2 separate regions of the Homo sapiens genome follow, and region 1 is linked to region 2. Evidence: fine-mapped expression QTL. A gene starts in region 2. The other region holds a variant in brackets. All regions are shown on one strand. Distances are from middle to middle. Region 1 overlaps ETF1 (eukaryotic translation termination factor 1). Region 2 holds the start of ETF1 (eukaryotic translation termination factor 1).

The links. PIP is the estimated chance that this variant, and not a neighbour inherited with it, causes the effect.
Region 1: its variant is fine-mapped to the expression of ETF1 in whole blood (INTERVAL, PIP 0.93).

The regions. Positions count from the first base shown.
Region 1 is chr5:138,499,867-138,509,781 of GRCh38, forward strand. It overlaps ETF1 (eukaryotic translation termination factor 1), which reads right to left. Exons shown (of 11, transcript NM_004730.4): 10 at 8,803-8,950; 11 at 6,229-8,521. The coding sequence ends at 8,439. Among named protein-coding and RNA genes, the nearest start is that of ETF1, 38 kb to the right of the region's middle. The variant C/T (reference allele first, on the strand shown) is at 4,738.
Region 2 is chr5:138,538,242-138,547,186 of GRCh38, forward strand. ETF1 (eukaryotic translation termination factor 1) reads right to left here and starts at 4,995. Exons shown (of 11, transcript NM_004730.4): 1 at 4,856-4,995; 2 at 4,592-4,695. The coding sequence starts at 4,677. RefSeq lists enhancers at 4,506-5,705, 4,647-5,436, 5,156-5,555, 5,437-6,226 and a silencer at 4,816-4,865.

The DNA of each region.
Region 1 (9,915 bases), 38 kb before region 2:
AGACCACCCTGAGCAACATAAGGAGACCCCATCTCTATAAAAAATATATATATATACAAAAAATAGCCTGACATGGTGGTGTAATCCCAGCTACTTGGGAGGCTGAGGCGAGAGAATCACTTGAGCTCAGGAGATCAAGGCTGCAGTGAGCTGTTATTGAGCCACTGCACTCCAGCCTAGGTGACAGAGTGAGACTCCATCTCAAAAAAAAAAAAAAGAAAGAAAGATAGGATAGATGTATCTCAAAAATTTATCTAAATGAAAGAAGCTTCACATAAAAGACTACATGTTGTGCTTTTCCATTAATATAAAAATTTCTAGGAAGGCCAGAACTGTAGAGGTAGAAAGCAGATCAGTAGCAGCTGGGCGTGGTGGCTAATGCCTATAATCCCAGCACTTTGGGAGGCCAAGGTGGGCAGATAACATGAGGCCAGGAGTTTGAGACCAGCCTGGCCAACATGGTGAAACCTCGTCTCTACTAAAAATAGCAAAATTAGCTGGGCGTGGTGGCAGGCACCTATAGTCCTAGTTACTCAGGAGGCTGAGGCATAAGAATTGCTTGAACCCGGGAGGCGGAGGTTTCAGTGAGCTGAGATCGCGCCACTGCACTCCAGCCTGGGCGACAGAGCAAGGCTCTGTCTCCAAAAATAAAAAATAAAAAAAAAACAAAGCAAGTAGATTGATCAGTAGTTGCCCAGGGTTGGATGTGGGAACAGAGATTGACTGCAAAAGAGCACAAATAATCTTTTTGGGATGCTGAACATTAAGTTGTGAGTTGTGGGATGTTTACATAACTATACAAATTTACTTTTTTTTTTTTTTTTTTGAGACAGAGTCTCACTGTCACCCAGGCTGGAGTGCAGTGGTGGGATCTTGGCTCACTGCAGCCTCCACCTTCCGGGATCAAGATATTAGAGGCCAGGCGTGTAGGCCTGGCCTACACACATTTACTTTTAAAAATAAATAGCCAAACTATACCTACAGTGGGTTAATTTTATAGTTTGTAAATTATACCTCAATAAAGCTGTTAATAAACAAACCACAGAAATGACAGCAGGATGAAAAAACCAGTGTCCTAGCCGGGCACGGTGGCTCACACCTGTAATCTCAGCACTTTAGGAGTCCAAGGCGGGCGGATCACGAGGTCAGGAGATCGAGACCATTCTGGCCAACATGGTGAAACCCTGTCTCTACTAAAAATACAAAAATTAGCCAGGTGTGATGGCGCACGCCTGTAGTCCCAGATACTCGGGAGGCTGAGGCAGGAGAATCACTTGAACCCAGGAGGTGGAGGTTGCAGTGAGCCGAGGGCACGCCACTGCACTCCAGCCTGGCAACACAGAGAGACTCTGTCTCAAAAAAAAAAAAAAAAAAAAAAAAAAAAAAAAAAAAAAAGAAAGAAAGAAAAAGAAAAAAGAAAAGAAAAGAAAAGAAAAGAAAAAACAGTGTCCTGAAATCTGAATGTCTTCCTGGCCTTTGGATCCAGTCAGGACTGATCCACGTGCCTCTCCAAACTCACCCTCTCATCTCTCCAGCTAACCCAGGTCCCCACATAGACCTAGCACCCCCAGAGGAGGAAGGAGCCACCCTGCACTCCCCTTGTCCTTTAACACTCATTGTCATTCCTTGTTCAGAGTCTCCACTGCTGGACCTTCAACACCGAAGGGCAGGGTGTGCACCTGCACTGTTTGCCACTGAATCTTGCACGGGACCTAGTACACGGGACATGTCTAAATGCTTGCTGAGTCAAGGAATGAGACTGGCTTAACCCAAGTCTCATTTAAGGAATAGAGGTGGCCGTGGAGTGCGTCTGTGGAGAAGGCTGGAGGAGACTGGGGTAGAACTCCTTCCATGTTACCTTTCAGAATCAGAGCCCGACAGGGGTGCAAGGGAGGGCCTCTAGCCCTGAGCACAGAAATTCGTCTTTATCTGGAGGAGCAACTCTCTCCCAGGCAACATCCTGCCTTATTACAAAGAGTCCCCCTCTGCAGGCCCTCCAGGCCCACCCCAGCTGGCTCATGTTGCCTTTCCCCACCAGAGAGCCTAGGCTGGGCATGTCTTTGGGTCTGGACAGTAATACAACATGGGGCAGAGGGTCCTGGCATCATCAAGCCCTGATTTCTCCTCATGCCTTCTCCCAGGAATCGGAATATCTCTGCATCTTTGCCTCTCAGAAGATCCTTGCCATTCCTGCTCGGAGCCTTTCTCTCAAGTTTCCACCCTCCTTCCTTATTCTCCTGGCTTCCTTGGAAATGGGTTTGCCCTCTAGCTTTGAGTGGGGATGGACAGGCAAGCAGAAGGGGCTAAGCCTAGGTATAGTATCTCAGCAGAGTGGGAGGAGCTGGAAGTCTGTGGCAGTCAGGGAGAGCTAGATGGGGCTAATTTGGAAGGCCGGGGGCTGAAGAAGCAAGTTGATCCACACACCCAAGCCAACCTTGACTCACAGGGAAGTGACTTCAAACAGCTTTCATAACTCCATCTGGATGTTGGCCACCTTTCCTCTCCTAGCTCTTTGGTTTCAGGCCACGTGCTCCCTCCAATTGTCCCTTCTCTCATTTATAACATTAGAGAGAACAGGGCCTGGATGAAGAATAACAAGATCATCCGGCTGTTAAGAGCACCGAATCTGGAGTTGGAGCAAGTGTTCATGTTGGCTCTGCTAATTTGCTGCATGAGCCTGACAGGTCACTATATTCCTCTCTGGCCTCAGCTTTCTTCTGTCTTTAGTGAGGGGATTGGAATAGGTAAGGTGCAAGACCCTTTCTAGTGCTAAAATTAAGGGGCCCGGCACAGTGGCACACACCTGGAATTCCAACACTTTGGGAGACAGAGGCGGGCCAATCACTTGAGCTCAGGAATTCAAGACCAGCCTGGGGAGGCTGGGCACAGTGGCTCACGCTTGTAATCCCAGCACTTTGGGAGGCTGAGGCGGGCGGATCACAAGGTCGGGAGATCAACACCATCCTGGCTAACACGGCGAAACCCTGCCTCTACTAAAAAAACAAAAACAAAAAATTAGCCGGGCGTGGTGGCTGGCGTCTGTGGTCCCAGCTACTCAGGAGGCTGAGGCAGGAGAATGGCATGAACCTGGGAGGCAGAGCTTGCAGTGAGCCGAGATCGCACCCCTGCACTCCAGTCTGGGTGACAGAGCAAGACTCCATCTCAAAAAAAAAAAAACACCCAGGCTGGGCAACATGGCGAAACCTCATCTCTACAAAAACAACAAAAAACCAAAAATTAGCCAGGTGTGGTGGTGTGTGCCTGCAGTCCCAGCTACTCGGGAGGCTGAGGTGGGAGGATCGCTTGATCCTGGGAGGTTGAGGCTGTAGTGAGCCAAGACTGCACCACTGCATTCCAGCTTGGGTGACAGAGTAAGACCCTGTCTCAAAAAAAAAAAAAAAAATTAGGTGCTAAAATTATAATTCCTTAAGAAGTCTAAGTATTGGGTATTGTGGAGAAAAGCTATATAAAGGTATGGCTGTAGACTAAGGACTAGAGTCGAATGAGACTCTTTCTGAGAGTCCTTTCTGAGAATGGGCTTGACATTCCCAGGTACAGCTTTGCCTTCTTCTCATCACTTCCAGGATTGCTCACCTACTTGGGGCCAAGGGCCCCCCAGGAAGCCCTTCTTCATGCTGTTTTATTTCACTCTGTAGGGATGACCTGCATTTGCACTGGCTTTGGAACCAAACAGACCTGACTTTGAGTCCCAGATTTTGCCACTTAGTAGAACGTGGATGGGAAGATATAAACAGCATCTCCCTCACTACGTTTTTCTAAGGATTACATAACTGTTCAACAAATGTCAGTGACTATAGTTACTTCACAGACGGATAGCTCAAAGCCCAGAATAAGGAGTAAGAAAACTGGGCAGAGCTGGATTGAGACTCCTGGGATCTCCTCTCCGTTCACTCATCCCTACTCCTTTGTTAAACTGCCCTCTCCACTTTCCTAAAATTTAAGGGCAAAGCAAGTTGTCCCAGGCACCTCTTAATGCTTGTCAGAAATCCCCCCTACTTCAGATGAAGCAAATTTCTTCCAGTCAGCATCCTTAACTCTATACCACCACCTTGTGGTCACCAGCACAAACTTTCCCTGGCCACTTCCAGAGGACCAAGGTTGGGAGAGGAAGAACCATGAGTAGCTGCCATCCCAGTCCTTGCTAAGTGCCTTCATGTGCCTTACTCCATTTAATCCTTATTACAGGTGGTGAAACTGCTACTCAAAGACATGGAATAATTTGCCAGCCTCTCAGGTGGCGCCAGGATTTCTACCTCAGACCTCAGAGATCCTGCTTCCTACTGCACTCTCCTGATAGCTTCCTGGGAAGCTGGCTGGCACGGCACTTCAGATTCAGGGACTGCCTGATACTGTGAAGTCACAAACCCAGTTAACTGCAGAGCCAGAGCCTTTTTTTCTTTTTTTCGAGACAGTCTCTCTGTCGCCCAGGCTGGAGTGCAGTGGTGCCATCTCGTCTCACTGCAACCTCTGCCTCCCAGGTTCAAGCAATTCTTGTGCCTCAGCCTCCTGAGTAGCTGGGATTACAGGCGCCCACCACCTGTTCGGCTAGTTTTTGTAATTTCAGTAGAGACGGGGTTTCACCATGTTGGTCAGGCTGGTCTTGAACTCCTGACCTCGGGTGATCCACCTGCCTTGGCCTCCTGAAGTGTTGGGTTTACAGGCGTGAGCCATGGTGCCCAGCAGAACCAGAGCTTTTCTTGACTCCCTTGTTTGGTT[C/T]TGGGCTCTTAGCTAAGCCCCAGGTAAGCCTGCCAGTTTCAGGGAAGGACTCCTGGAGATGGCTGTATCTGAAACAGAATTCACCAGACAGGGTTTTAGACTTGATTTACAGAGAACCCTTTAGGTGGTGAATTGTTTTCACCTGTTATTTCTAGTGCCTGCTATTCAGCCACATCCTCAGCAACTTGCAGCACCCAAACTGCCACAAAACAAGCAAGTAACTGTGCCCTGCTTCCCTAGCTCTAATCGGATGCTCCCACACCACTTGGCTGTTCAGTTCCTAGGTCCCCTGAGACCCAGTCCCATCAGGGCTGGACTTGGCAGGCAGGAATCCCCTGGCATTCACTCAAGCTGGCAACAAAGGAGAAGCTGGCATGAAACTTAAATTCCACCTTGGCTCTCAGCCCTAAATCCACCGTGCCTGTCTGGGAGTGTCATGGCATGCGTCTTGGAGCCAGAGAACAAAAGATGGCAAGTGCTGCAGGCCCAGACAGGCAAGGACCACAGCCCATATATCCTGCACCACTGTGCTGCCTTCCAACAATTTTGTCTTCAAGAACAGCACCTAGACACGCATTAGGAGGGAAAATTACACTTCCACCAGCACAGGCATGTTCGCCCCTTCCCAGCTGGTAATTGAGTTTCGTCGTCAGAGCTATCACCTAGATCAGGTAAGAAAATGGGTGAAAAGTACGCCAAGTGCCATTACTGGTCAATTTTACTTAAAACAGTTTTCTCAAACCTGGAGAAAGCAAACCATGCACCACCTTGGCTCCTCAACTAGGCTTCCTAAACTACCAAAGAGGCTCTTTAAGCACCTCAACCTTGGGGGAAAACAAAGAAAACAAATCCTCTTCTGCTCTGAACCTGGCCTAGGAGCCCTGCTCCTCTGGACCAGCCCCTGACCTGCTTTTGGGTGGGCTACTACTCTCCTACCCAGTGTAAGGTATGTAAGATGAAGGAGCGTGGGAGAGAGAGAGGGCCCAGGCCTAGTTTCTGCTATTCCATCTGGACCATTCTATTATAGGACTCAAAGACAGATACAGAGAGAACTTTGGAATAAGGCCTGGGATAAAATTTTGGTGTTATCACTAAAGAGCTGCTACTTAACCTTCTTTTGTTCTGTTTCATCACCTGTAAAATTGGGTACACCATCTACCTCCATGGGATGCTGGGTTATGGGATAATATACTTAACATACCTTAAAAAAAAAAAAAAGCAAGATTCCCTTTGGCATGCATATAGAATGGGGGAGAATACAAATTAGTTTGGCCCCAGCAACCTGAACCTTCTTCTTCTAGCATAACTCTGGGATCATGACCTCAGAAAAACTTTGCATATACCTTTCCATAGACAAATGTAGTAAACACAACTCAAACCCAAGGCTGAAATGCTATTGGCCGTGACTAATCTGAGGTATGCCTTGGAGAACTGTCTCCACAGTTCAGGCCTTTCTAGACCAGTCCTAAAAAATCTCAAGCACACAAAGTATATTCTTAAATATGGTTTAATACTCTTCTCCATTTCTGTACATCACAACACCAAGATTTTGCTGCTTAGTATCTCTCTGCAGAGGCTATAGAGAATGCAAAGGCTACGGTTTTCACCCCCTCTTATATGTGTTTGTATGTGTAAGTGTAATACATATCAATATATATTGATACACACATCAATATATAATGCAATATATATCACCGAAGAGAACACATTGATTAAAGAAATACAAAAATTTGGCATCATTTCCAAACTTAAATAGTAAAAATAAAAACTACAAAAGGAGCTGCATACCCTAAATGTATCATGTGAAACAACAAGCATATTCAAAAATGTAAATTTACATCCAATTTCTCTGGTCTTGTCATATCACATCAGACCCATTTACAATGGCAAAACCCTAAGGTACTGCTGTGAAGAGAGCATGTTTGCTCGCTCTTGGGTGTTCTGCAAACAAATAGCAGAGCCCAAAGCAAAAAAGCCTGTTCCGGTGAAGTCTCCCACGTTGGTGAACACCAAATAATGGACTCTTCTCACAGGGGGTTGAGACATCAGGTTACACATTGACAGACAGTATTTGGACCTCAGAGTACAGTGTGAGAACCAGAAACTTTACATTTAAGACATACTCCCTTCATTCAAGTGAAACAGGATTATTGGAACGATAGGCAGGTCTGTAACCTGGGAACAAGGAGCTGGTTCAGACCAATAAAGCTACGAGTGACTGAATCAAGTCAGTAAAGAACAGCAGTCAGGCACTAAAGTGTTAAAAGTACCCAATTTGAAAACCAAATGCACCCCACTACCCTAGTCAGTGTGGAGGTGATACCAATTGACTTTTAAAACCTTTGGTCCTTCAAAGTCCATTTGGTATACTTTTTTCCATCGCTACCACTGGGCACGTACTATACACTTTGTTCAACTGTCACCACCCTGGGCACGCCATGACCTTGCATATCAGCTGGGTTCAAGTCTGACTTACAGCCCAGCTGTGAAGCATAAGCTTCAGGGTTTCAGGCCAACTTTTGGATCCAACATGGTCTTAAATCCATGGTGCCAGAAGCTGTGTCCCATCCCTTCCCACCCGCCCCTAATTTCTCATGTGAGAAGTGCTTGTAAGTCCCACATTTGAAACAGATGCTCCAACCCCACCAGGAGGTCAGGAGTTTATAATTACATGCAGTCATACATGTCTGTCGTTCCTGTGAAAAACCTTGCAGTTCATTTTAATAAATCAAAACATTCACATAATCTCATGCCATCCAACACAAGGAAAACACATCCACCTCCCTTTTAACAAGGATTGACCCAAGCAAAATAAAATCCTCTTTAAATTTCTTCGCTTCCACTTAAATTGCATGTTTTATTTCTCCCAATCCCAGCAATAGCACAGAAGCCCCATCATATCCATCCCAAACCGGTTTCGAGTAGGTTAAGGTTATAGGGACCCTTGTCAGAACATTGATACAAAGGGCTCCCAAACGCCGGGCACAAATGTGTCTGCAAACAGATGGAAGTAAACAGTGCACTGGCCCAAATGCTTCATGAGTCAGTTTGATTTTGCAATGCAATTTGCATCCTTGAAACTGCCAGTCTGGAGGGGGACGGGGTAGCGTGAGGGAGTGAAGTTGAAAGTGCCTCCTATTAGCTCACCCTTTCAACATTAAACAGAGACCAAGAGAGAAATGGTTCCAACATTTCACCACATATATTTCTTCTTACGCAGTCTAAGCTGAGAATGCCATGTAAATGGGTCACTGCGAAATGCAGCAATTTAATTTTTCTCCAATCAAAATAAGAAACAAACCAGTATGATCTCACTTCTATTAACTTTTGAAGGTTTACAGCAGTTAAAGTATTTTTGCTTCTATGTATGAAGGTTAAAAAAATCATTTTTTTTCATAAAATACAAGAGCAACCAATTTCACCATCCAGTAAAAGTAAAAACTGGGATTCTTTTTTAAATTAGTCCAAAGTGGCGTTTAGGAACTTAGTTGTAGGCTGCTGCGCTGACACCATGACAAACCAAAGTGTAGGGCTGGGTCTGGTTTTGTTTCGGTTTTCTTTTCAATATCCAATGCTCATGGATTAAGTTCTGGAAATGTTCCAATTGTAAGGCAGGGATCTGTTTGGATTCCACCATGGGTATGCTCCTTGGGTTGGATGCTGGAGGGTGAGGCACGTTTTGCCGGACCCATGTCGACTACCTAGTAGTCATCAAGGTCAAAAAATTCATCGTCTCCTCCTTGGTATTCCATTCCCTGGAAATCTACTCGGTACCGCAAGATACCTGGGGAAACAAACCAAAAGGTAAATTACCTGTGTTCATGGGATGGGCATGTGTGTAGGTGGCTGGTAAGGGAATAAGGGAAGCCCTATTCTCTTGCAGAATTGCAGAAAGCAAAGAGGTAATAATAAACATGGGTCCAAATTAGGAACCTGCACCTGCTGCGTCAATCACCTATCCCAGCAGATAATAAGCACCTCACCGGAAGCAGGGCTAGGGCTAGCCAGGAGGGACCTTGACCTGAGACCCTGGTTTTAAGTTTGGTTTGCTGATTTGCTACTCACCTCCAATTCCACCAAATCCTTTCACAAACTGAGACCCTTCTTGTGATTTATCTGTGACAATTTCCAACGTAGCTCCAAATTTTTTATAGTTGTTAGCAAACCATTCCAACAGGGGCATGCTCTCGATAAGCTCATGTTCCTGTCCGGTCTACAGGGATGACCATGAGATACAAAAATGGGGGATTAGGATATATGAAGGCTAATTAGTCCCTCTCACAGCCCCTTGCCCACCTATCACTCTCATCCTCCCATTTATAGGCATGTCTGTGTGTAAAGCTCTGTAAGTCATCTCTGGTTTTGATAACCTAATGGATATCAGCAGAGAAATTCGGATTATTTCAAACAACACTTCTCCTCAGGCTCTACCCTCAGCTATGAAATACCAACACAAAAACTCAGTGGGTATTCAGCTTATGATTCCTACTGTTGACTCTAGAAGTCAGGCTGTTGTAGTGTCTCTAAGCAGCACCCATTCAATGGCTCAGAAGAGACATTCCAGGACTGCTTTTGGGAGTGGCCTCGTAGAGAACAAAGCTCTCCAAACCAGAATTTGAGGAAGCTATCATTTAAACCTATCTCATACGGGAGGGTCATACTTTCAACTGTTGTGATGCACTTAGAGCAAACCAGAGAAGCCACTGCAGTGGAAGAGCTGATCAAGTGAAGAAAGCAGCACAGGTTTCACAGTGCAGGAGAGGCATTATGTAAATTACATTTTCCTCCCTATTAAATTTCAAGGATAATGAAATGTTTTCCTGATTGCTTAACTACTTAAAAACAAAGACAAAAACAAACAAACAAACAAAAACCAGGCCAGGCATGGTGGGTCACGTCTGTAATCTCACCACTCTGGAAAACCAATGTAGGAGGATCACTTGGGCCCAGGAGTTCAAGACCAGCCTGGTGAACACAGCAAGACCCCATTTCTATAAAAAAAATTAGGCTGCCTGGCATGGTGGCTCACGCCTGTAATCCCAGCATTTTGGGAGGCTAAGGCAGGTGGATCACCTGAGGTCAGGAGTTCGAGACCAGCCTGGCCAACATGATGAAACCCAGTCTCTACTAAAAATACAAAAATTAGTCAGGCGTGGTGGCGGGCGCCTGTAGTCCCAT
Region 2 (8,945 bases):
TGCAGTGGCGGAATCCCGGCTCACTGCAACCTACGCCTCCAAGGTTCAAGCATTTCTCCTGCCTCAGCCTCCCGAGTAGCTGGGATTACAGGTGCAAGCCACCACACCCAGCTCATTTTTGTATTTTTAGTAGAGACAGGGTTTCACCATGTTGGCTAGGCTGGTCTTGAACTCCTGACCTCAAGTGATCCACCCACCTTGGCCTCCCAAAGTGCTGGGATTACAGGTGTGAGTCAACGTGCCCAGTCCTCATGTGGCCTATTAATTTGTCTAACCAACAGTTTGGGGGAAGGGAGGCATGGAAAGAGCCAGAATAGAGGACAAAAAAAGTCTTCTTTATGAGCCTGAACTTTAAATGGTTCAGGTATTTGTATCAAAGACCACAATGTATCATTTTAGCTACAACCAGCCCTTCAACGATAGTGAGGGAAAAAAAAAAAGAATGTGAAATTCAGTGCTTTGAGAATATTATTTCCACCACCATTTAGGTGAATATTCTATTAACCAACAATGTTTACTTGGGGAAGGTACTCAAACACATCCAACATACCTTAATTTATTCAAAGTATATAAATTAAGCAATCTGTTCATATTAATTATCTCTAAGATTTAAAACATTAACCTATTCAATGATCTCGCCAAAACACTGTTAAATCTATATAATGTGAGGAATTCAGTGGGGATTCTTTAAAAATGGTTATATTTGGGGGCAGGAACAACCAATTTTATTTCATTTAGAATTAAGATATCAACAAGTTATTTTTAAGTAAACAGTTTTTAAAATGTCCAAACACTACAGCAGAAGTTTGCAAGCTCACTGACCTTCAAACAAGGGTTATGGTTATGAGGGTTATCTGACCAAGTGTTCATTGGATAAGAAACACATAAGGTTTCCTAGTGAAGATAAGTGAAGACATTTTAACACCCACAGACACAACCTAACCCAAATTAACACTGTCCATTCCTTTGTCACATTCACCACTGTCCCTGGCTAGCACAGGCTCTAGTTATGATTTTATTAACATTACCTTAAAACTATAAGGTGTCCAACATTATTTCTGAGGCCACCTCTTGCCTGCTCAGAAAACACCAAGGGAAAAAACAACCAATAATTCTCCCCCTTTTTCCAACATACGTTGACCTGTTTTAGTTCCTTATTCAAGATACCCTCAACCACAGTATTGGTTTATGTATACATTTGTCCTTCATAAGCCAACTGTGGAGCATATACCAGGAGCAATCATGAACAGGGAAGAACTACCATCAACTTTAAGTGGGGCCTATGTCTACCAAAATAATTAACTGGTTATTTTACTAGCACACACAAACTAACATTCGACCAGGCTTATCTGAAACCAAATAAGCATGTTCTACCCAAATCAAAAATCAAGTTTATGTGTGACACTCCTTTCAACTCAGAAGATTAAGTATGATGCTGGTTACAAAACAGAATGCTATGAAGTTCCCCATTTTAGTAATGTGGCCTCTATAAATGCTCTTCTACACACGTGTAACATAAAATAGAATCTGTTATAGCTCAGACTACATTTTAAGGAAATCTAGTTTTGTATTTTCTGAAAATAAAATATACCCATTATAGCACATTGGTTTAAGTTCTGAACTCTGCTACATTTTTGCTGTGACATCTTGGACAAATTATCTCTTAGCCTCAGGTGCCTTGTCTACCAAATGGTGGCAATACTTGTGAGGATTAAATGACTTAATAATGTACTGTAGCACAGTCTATAATATAGTATGTGCTTAATAAATTATTTTGCCAACATACTTCCCTTTATTCAGATGTAGTTAGTGAGCCCATTTTGCAGGTGGTTCCTTTTTCAAGCTACATTAAATTTGGGTCATATATCAAGAGATAACCACATAGGATTATCTTAATTTCAAAATCACTCTTATTCTAGCATATTTTAATAACTACTGTTAAAAACAAATCCATGATTCCTATGCCTAGAATTCTACACTGCTAAGGGGAGGAAAGGGCTTTTTCATTTCCAAAACAATACTGTTACTCAACCACTAAGTCTCACTACCTTGTCCTAATAACCATGCCTGAAAACCTCAGTTTCCTCCTGAAAACCAGAGTATCCCCAAAACATCAGCAAATACAGATTCATTTTGCCATCCACTTAAGTCTTTAAAGCCCATTACAATTCTTCTAAAGATATTTTATCACTAGGTAAAGTAGGAATAACATTTTCCACTGTACCCTATCTATGAAAATCTAGAGTCTGACTTTAACACAAGTTGGCAATGAAAATATTCCCACCTCCAAAAACTGGTATATACTGGGGAATCTTCTGACTCCCTTACCAATACTCAGAGATGGCCAAGATTTTAAATTTCCATGGGATCAAGATGCAACCAAATCCTGATTAAAAGCAAAGTAGGACATGATTATTAACCACAATGTGTAGCGGAAGGTCCTCCAGCTATTTTAGACAGCTTAATCATGTCTGAAATATCCAAACTCAACAACTTGAAATACAAGTTGTGTCTTATAACTTCATTTTTAGCATGCTTTAAACTTTACTGAACTTTGCTAAACAAAGAGGTAAAGCCTTCAAAAGCCTTAAAGAGGCGCTTAAAAGTTTCTAGTGGCTAGGTAACATGGGTAGAACAAATTTAAGAATGAGTTTCCTTCATTAAGCAGTAGAAAGGAATGCTGTTACTTATTAAGCAATGTCATCTTCAATGTTACTTCATTCAAACAGGCAAATTATAGTCATGATTTAATTTTTTGGACTGTTTCAGAGAATATAACGTATGCAAATTAAAATGTGTAAACCTGCCTGCTACTGAAAGCAGTAAGAACAAATCCAGAGGTCACATCCACCTATATACAATACTGCAACAACAGCAATCTATAAAATGCAATACTGGATTGAAGGCTTCAAGTAACAAAACAAGATCCTACTGAAACAAAAGAACCTGGCTAATTCTTGGTAGTGCAACATAATGGGTCGTGACCTATGTTACCCTTTCTGTACAGTATTCTCACATTTTGGGAATAACTGGTCACTCTATCATACGGCACAAGTTCCTGTAAGATCATTAAGAAGGTCTGGATATTCTATTGAATTCAAAGAAAAACCTAAGGACTAACAAGCCGCTGTCTTCGATTCATATTAAACTAACGTTTCTCCAGTAAACCGAAGGAGTGAGCACAAGCCCGTCACTGAATGGGGCCAAACTTTTAGAAGCCTCATTCCAAACAGAACTGTCCCTAATTTATTAAGAACAAAACACTAGTAAAACCAACCTGTGAATTGGGCCTTCAGTACAATTAAGCACATCCTGTTTCATATAACAGTAATAATGAAGAGCTTGGAGGGGCTGTCATTCTAAAATTGCAAATCTACCCATAAATGACAATCCTGGGCTGGAAACCAGAATGTCAAATTCTTGTGCTGAAATCAACTTTTCACATGGCCTGAGGCAGGCCATTCTACTATTCTAAGAATGCTCAGACATACAAGTATGTAATAATGTTCCAAACACTTTTTTTTGGGGGGGGGGGCACTTCCTGTAAGTAAAAAGTTTCTATGACTGGGAAAGGAACAAAATAAAGTAATAAAAGAAACAGGAATACCCCTGGCACACCTTCCTCAAACGAACAACGTTAAAAAAAAAAGAAAACACACACACACAGCTAATTTTAATCTAGCCTACTCTCCCCCCAATGGACACACCTACAGTTTCTTATCAAAATGTACAAGACTCAAAGCCCATTTAATTCAATTATGAATCTCACTCAACAAGCATCAAGCACATCAGGCGCCTCTCTACAGCGATATCCCCACAAGTTTCAGAGAAATGCCAGCAGGGACTCTGTAGTTATGATTCCTATCAAACGGCCCCCTAACCCGTATTTCTCCTGGACATACACATGCAGATTCATTAACCAAAACCTACCCAGCACCCCTCACATCGCGCGTACGTTGGCATTTTCAGTTTATAGGTGGGTCCTGGAACAGCTAAAACCAGGAAGCTCCGGGGTAATTAGAGGACTTGGGAGAAGTCATCTTGGGACAGGTGGAAGACCCAGAGAAATCAGGAATCAGAAAGAAGCTGTCCCTGGCCACCTCTGCTTCCCGTCCCATCCAAACTTCACCCACCCGGGTCTCAGAAGCCCAGAAGGGAGAGGCCATTTTAATGAGGCCTGGCTGAGAAATGAAGGGAGAAGAGGAAATCAGGGAAGGGCCCTGGGAAAGGAAGGCCGAACACTTTGCCACAATAGCACCCGAGTCGGGTGGCAGCACCTGGAGCCCGAAGAGGGAGGACCTGGACTTAAGGGCCCGGGAGAGGTGCAAAAGTAGCGGTGGCCTACCACGAGGGGGGCCGAGTGATCTAAACCGGGGAGCGCGGGCCCCTTACCCCCATGCGGGGAAAGGACCCCTTCTCGGGCCAACCGCGCCGACCCTCGCCCCTGGGTCAGGGGCTACTACCCAGAGATCCAGAAGGCGGGAGTTGGCTAGTGCCTGGTTCTCCTCATCCGGCCATGCGGCGCGGGGGCGTCCATCCTGAGGGGTCCGGGAACCAAGAGGGCACGGAGGGTGCCGGACGCGGCGCTCACCCGCGGGCCGCCTCCAAGCTCTTAATGAGCTTCTTGATCTTCCAGATCTCCACGTTCCTGTCGGCAGCACTGGGGTCGTCCGCCATCTTCTCGCCTCCTCCTCCCTAGAGCGGCCCGGCGGGGCCCGGAGACACCAAGACCACAGAGTTAGCGCCGCCGCTGGGGCAGAGCGGCCCCCTTCCTCGCCATCCCCCAGAGGCCCTCTCCTCCCGTCCGGTGCAGCTCGCCACAAAGGTCACCGGCCTTTCCCTCCCTGTGCCTTACCTAAGGGCCCAGTCCTGGGCGGCAGCGGCTGCTCCTCCCCGGCGGCGGCTCCGCGGCGGCGGCGGCTCTGACGTAGGACACCGGCTCCCTCTCTCCAGGCAGCTGCATGTGTTGCAATCCGCTCACATGGGGCCTGTGACATCACTTCCTCCGCCAGGGGCGGAGTGGAAGGCGGCAGGCGGAAGGGAGGGGGCCGGTGCGAGTGAGGAGAAGCTGGGCGTCCGCCGCGACTTCTCATTGGCTCTCTGCCCCGCAGCCTACAATGAGCCCGCCGATTGGCTGCAGCTGGGTCCGCGCCGCCTTGTGAGGTAAGGCTGGGGGGTGGGAGGTGCCACCTTTCTTCCGGCCCGGCAAGGCGAGAGGAGGAAGCGGGCGGAAGCCGGTGGCTCTCGCGAGTTTACTGAGAGCCCCCGTCAGGCTCGAATGGGGGTGGTTCTTAAAGAGAGAGGACCGGGGTCGTCGTCTTTTCAGTCCATTCTCCTTGAATAGGGTGGACATCTGAGGCTTTGCGACTCGAAGCTAGGCACTTGGGCCCGACGCGCGGTTTGAACGGTGCTTGAGAAGCCGCGAAGAAGCGCCTCGCGCTCAGCGGCTTCTTCGCTGACGAAGTGCTGCGGTCTGCGTGCGTCATGGCTGCACGGAATAGTGTGGAGGAGTCCTGGCCAGTAGGTCTGGATGAGGAACCTGCCTCCGGGCGGTCCGGGACCCTCACCTGCAGGGGCGAAAGAGGCCTGTTTTCTCTCGCCCCAGAGCTAGGACGGGCTCACTTTGGACTTAGAACTTTATGGGGTGGAAGACAGCGGGGGCTGCCTGAGCTTGGAGACCTGAGGTATCTGGTCCCATGTATGATTTGGCCTGAGCCGTTGAGAATGGGGGTGGAGAGAGTTGAAACAAAATGGGCATCCACATACGGTTAGAACTTTATCTTTTTGAGTTAGGATTTTTAGGTGGCTACTTTGTCCCCCCTCACCTCGTCTGGGTTCAAATATTGAGCCCAGACCGTGTGCTGGACCCTGTTTTCCTGGGGATACAGAGGTGAACCAAACAGATGACAGTACTTACCCTTATGGAGCTTATAGTCGATTGGGTTTTTAAGTTTGTGATTTTATACTTTTTGTAATAAAATAATTACACAAATGCTTAAGTACTTCAGGGTGCTCTGAGAGTGTATGGCGGGGACCCAGCTCTGAAATGAGACCCAAAGGATGATTAAGAGTTTGTCAGGAGGAAACAGAATACAGTTGAGAACTACAGAAACGCCAGTGTGCTGGCACAAGGTCAGGGACGGGGAGAGTGGTTTGAGGGAGCAGCAGGGGAAGAGGTCATGTAGGGTCTTTTAAGCCAGATTCAGAAGTTTGGTTTCTTTCAAGAACAGTGGGTAGTTTAAAGGGTTTAGAGCCCTGGTGTGGACTGGAGAGAGTACAGGAGAAGCCCAGAGACCATTTTGGCTGCTTCATTATCATGTGAGAGATGATTTTCGCTTACATTAGGGTGGTGACAGTGCAGATAGAAGTGAATGAAGGGCCTGGTGCAGTGGCCCACGGCTGTAATCCCAGCACTTTGGGAGGCCAAAGGGGAGGATCGCTTGAGCCCAGGAGTTTGCGAGCAGCCTGGGCAACATGGCAAGATTCCGTCTCTACAAAATTACAAAATATTAGCCTGGTGTGGTGGCCCGCGCCTGTAGTCCCAGCTGCTTGGGAGGCTGAGGTGGGAGAAACCCTTGAGCCGAGGAATTCGAGGCTGCAGTGAGCTGAGATCACACCACTACACTCCAGCCTGGGTGACAGAGCGAGACCTTGTCTCGAGGAAAAAAAAAAAGTGAATAGGACTGGATGATGGATTGGTTGAGGAAAACCAAGAATGGTTCCCAGAGTACTGAAGTGGTGACATTTACTGAGGTGGGAAAGGTGAGGAGTAGGTGTTGGGGGATGATTGAGAATTTCATCTTGGGCCTGTTAAGTTTGAGATTGCTTATGAGACATGTAAGTAGGGATGTCCGTCATGCGCTTTCATTTGTATGGTTTTTGAATACTTTTTGCATGTGTTATAAACTGTGTCCACACTTTGAAGATGGGGGTATGACCTCCATTTCATACATGGGGAAACTGAGGCAAAGAAAAGTGAAAGGGATCTGCTCAGAGTCCACAGCTAGTTTATGGCTTCCCGACTCCATTTTTGGAGTCCAGTGTATTATACAGTGACCCCATTACCTGTATTTTCATAGGGTGGGGACACGGTCATACTTCTGTCCCCCAGGAAATGAATCTCAGGTTGGAACCTCTTCTTTGGGTTCCATTTTGTAGTTTTTGGCATATGTTTATTTGTTATATAATATTGTACTCCTGCTGTGTGTGTGTCATTCACTGTGTTTAGTAGTGAACGGAGGGGTCTTCTTAGTCATAAACACTGCTTACTGACTAGGAATCAACTGTGTCCAAGGTTTTCCTTCATTCCTCTTGCCCTGGTTCCTCCTTTCTATATTAGATTGCCCTACTCTACCCTTCCTGTTCTTTTTTTTTTTTTTTTTAAAGACGGAGTCTCCCTTTGTCGCCCAGGTTGGAGTGCAGTGGCACGATCTTGGCTCACTGCAACCTCCACATCCCGGGTTCAAGCGATTCTTCTGCGGCAGCCTCCTGAGTAGCTGGGACTACAGGCGGGTGCCACCATGCCCAGCTAATTTTTTGTATTTTTATTAGAGTCGGGGTTTCACCGTGTTAGCCAGGATGGTCTCGATCTCCTGACCTCGTGATCTGCCTGCCTCGGCCTCCCAAAGTGCTGGGATTACAGGCGTGAACCACCATGCCGGGCCAGTTTTTGTATTTTTTATTTTTTATTTTTTTTTTAGCAGAGACAGGGTTTCACCATGTTGGCCAGGCTGATCTTGAATTCCTGACCTCAGGTGATCCACCTGCCTCCGCTTCCCAAAGTGCTGGGATTACATGCGTGAGCCACCACACCTGGCCTCCTCTTCCTTTTGATGTTTGTGTTTACAGCATTGCTTCAGGTCCATGCTTGAAGGCTTTCTTCTGTGTGATTCAGGCTGAAGTAAGCATGACGACATCCCAAGTAGGATTGCTGTTTTCAGCCTCTGAATTCTTAAAACTTATTTCTTAGACAATTGCAGGCCCAGGTAGCCCCAAAAGCTCCTTGCCTAGTTGCTGCAAATTCACCATCTCTGCATTTAGAATTAGAAATCAGTGCATTAGAGGCAAAGGCTGGGATAACTATCTACGTGAAGAGGTTTGGGATGTATGAAGCACGGATGGTAGTGCCTGCATCAAGGCTTTTTAAATGGGACCATGACGATTCATTGTTGAGGAATGTTCTGTGATATAAAAGTGATACAGATTTTTCAAACTGCTAAATGGTGAGAACAAAATATATAACCTCTCTAGGCACACAGATTCTCTGAAAAATAAAGGAATTGTTCTTTATGATCTCAGAACTTCCTCCTCAGCTCAAACATTATGTAACAAAGTTAAATATTGGGATATAGGTGATGTTCCTACCTAATTAGGTGGGAGTAGGCAAGTAAGTTTTTGTTTCATTTTCTTTTTTTTTTTTGAGGCAGGGTCTCACTGTTGCCCAGGCTGGAGTACAGTGGTACGATAATAACTCACTGCAACCTTGACCCCAGGACTTAAGCGATCCTTCCACCTCAGCCTCCCTAGTAGCTGGGACCACAGGCGTGGGCCATGATGCCTGGCTAATTTTTGTATTTTTAGTAGAGATGGGGGTTTCACCATGTTGCCCAGGCTGATCTCGAACTCCTGACCCCACGTGACCCACCTGCCTCAGCCTCCCTAGTAGCTGGGACCACAGGCGCAGGCCATGATGCCTGGCTAATTTTTGTATGTTTAGTAGAGATAGGGGTTTCACCATGTTGCCCAGGCTGATCTCGAACTCCTGACCTCACGTGACCCACCTGCCTCAGCCTCCCAAAGTGTTGGGATTACAGGCCTGTTATAAGTTTTGATGTTGAAAGCACAAATAAGTCTTTGTGCTTAGAGAGAACTGGTCTCTACAAAAACAAGAAAAAAAAATCAGCCAGGCACAGCAGCATGTGCCCCTAGTGCCAGCTACTGAGGAG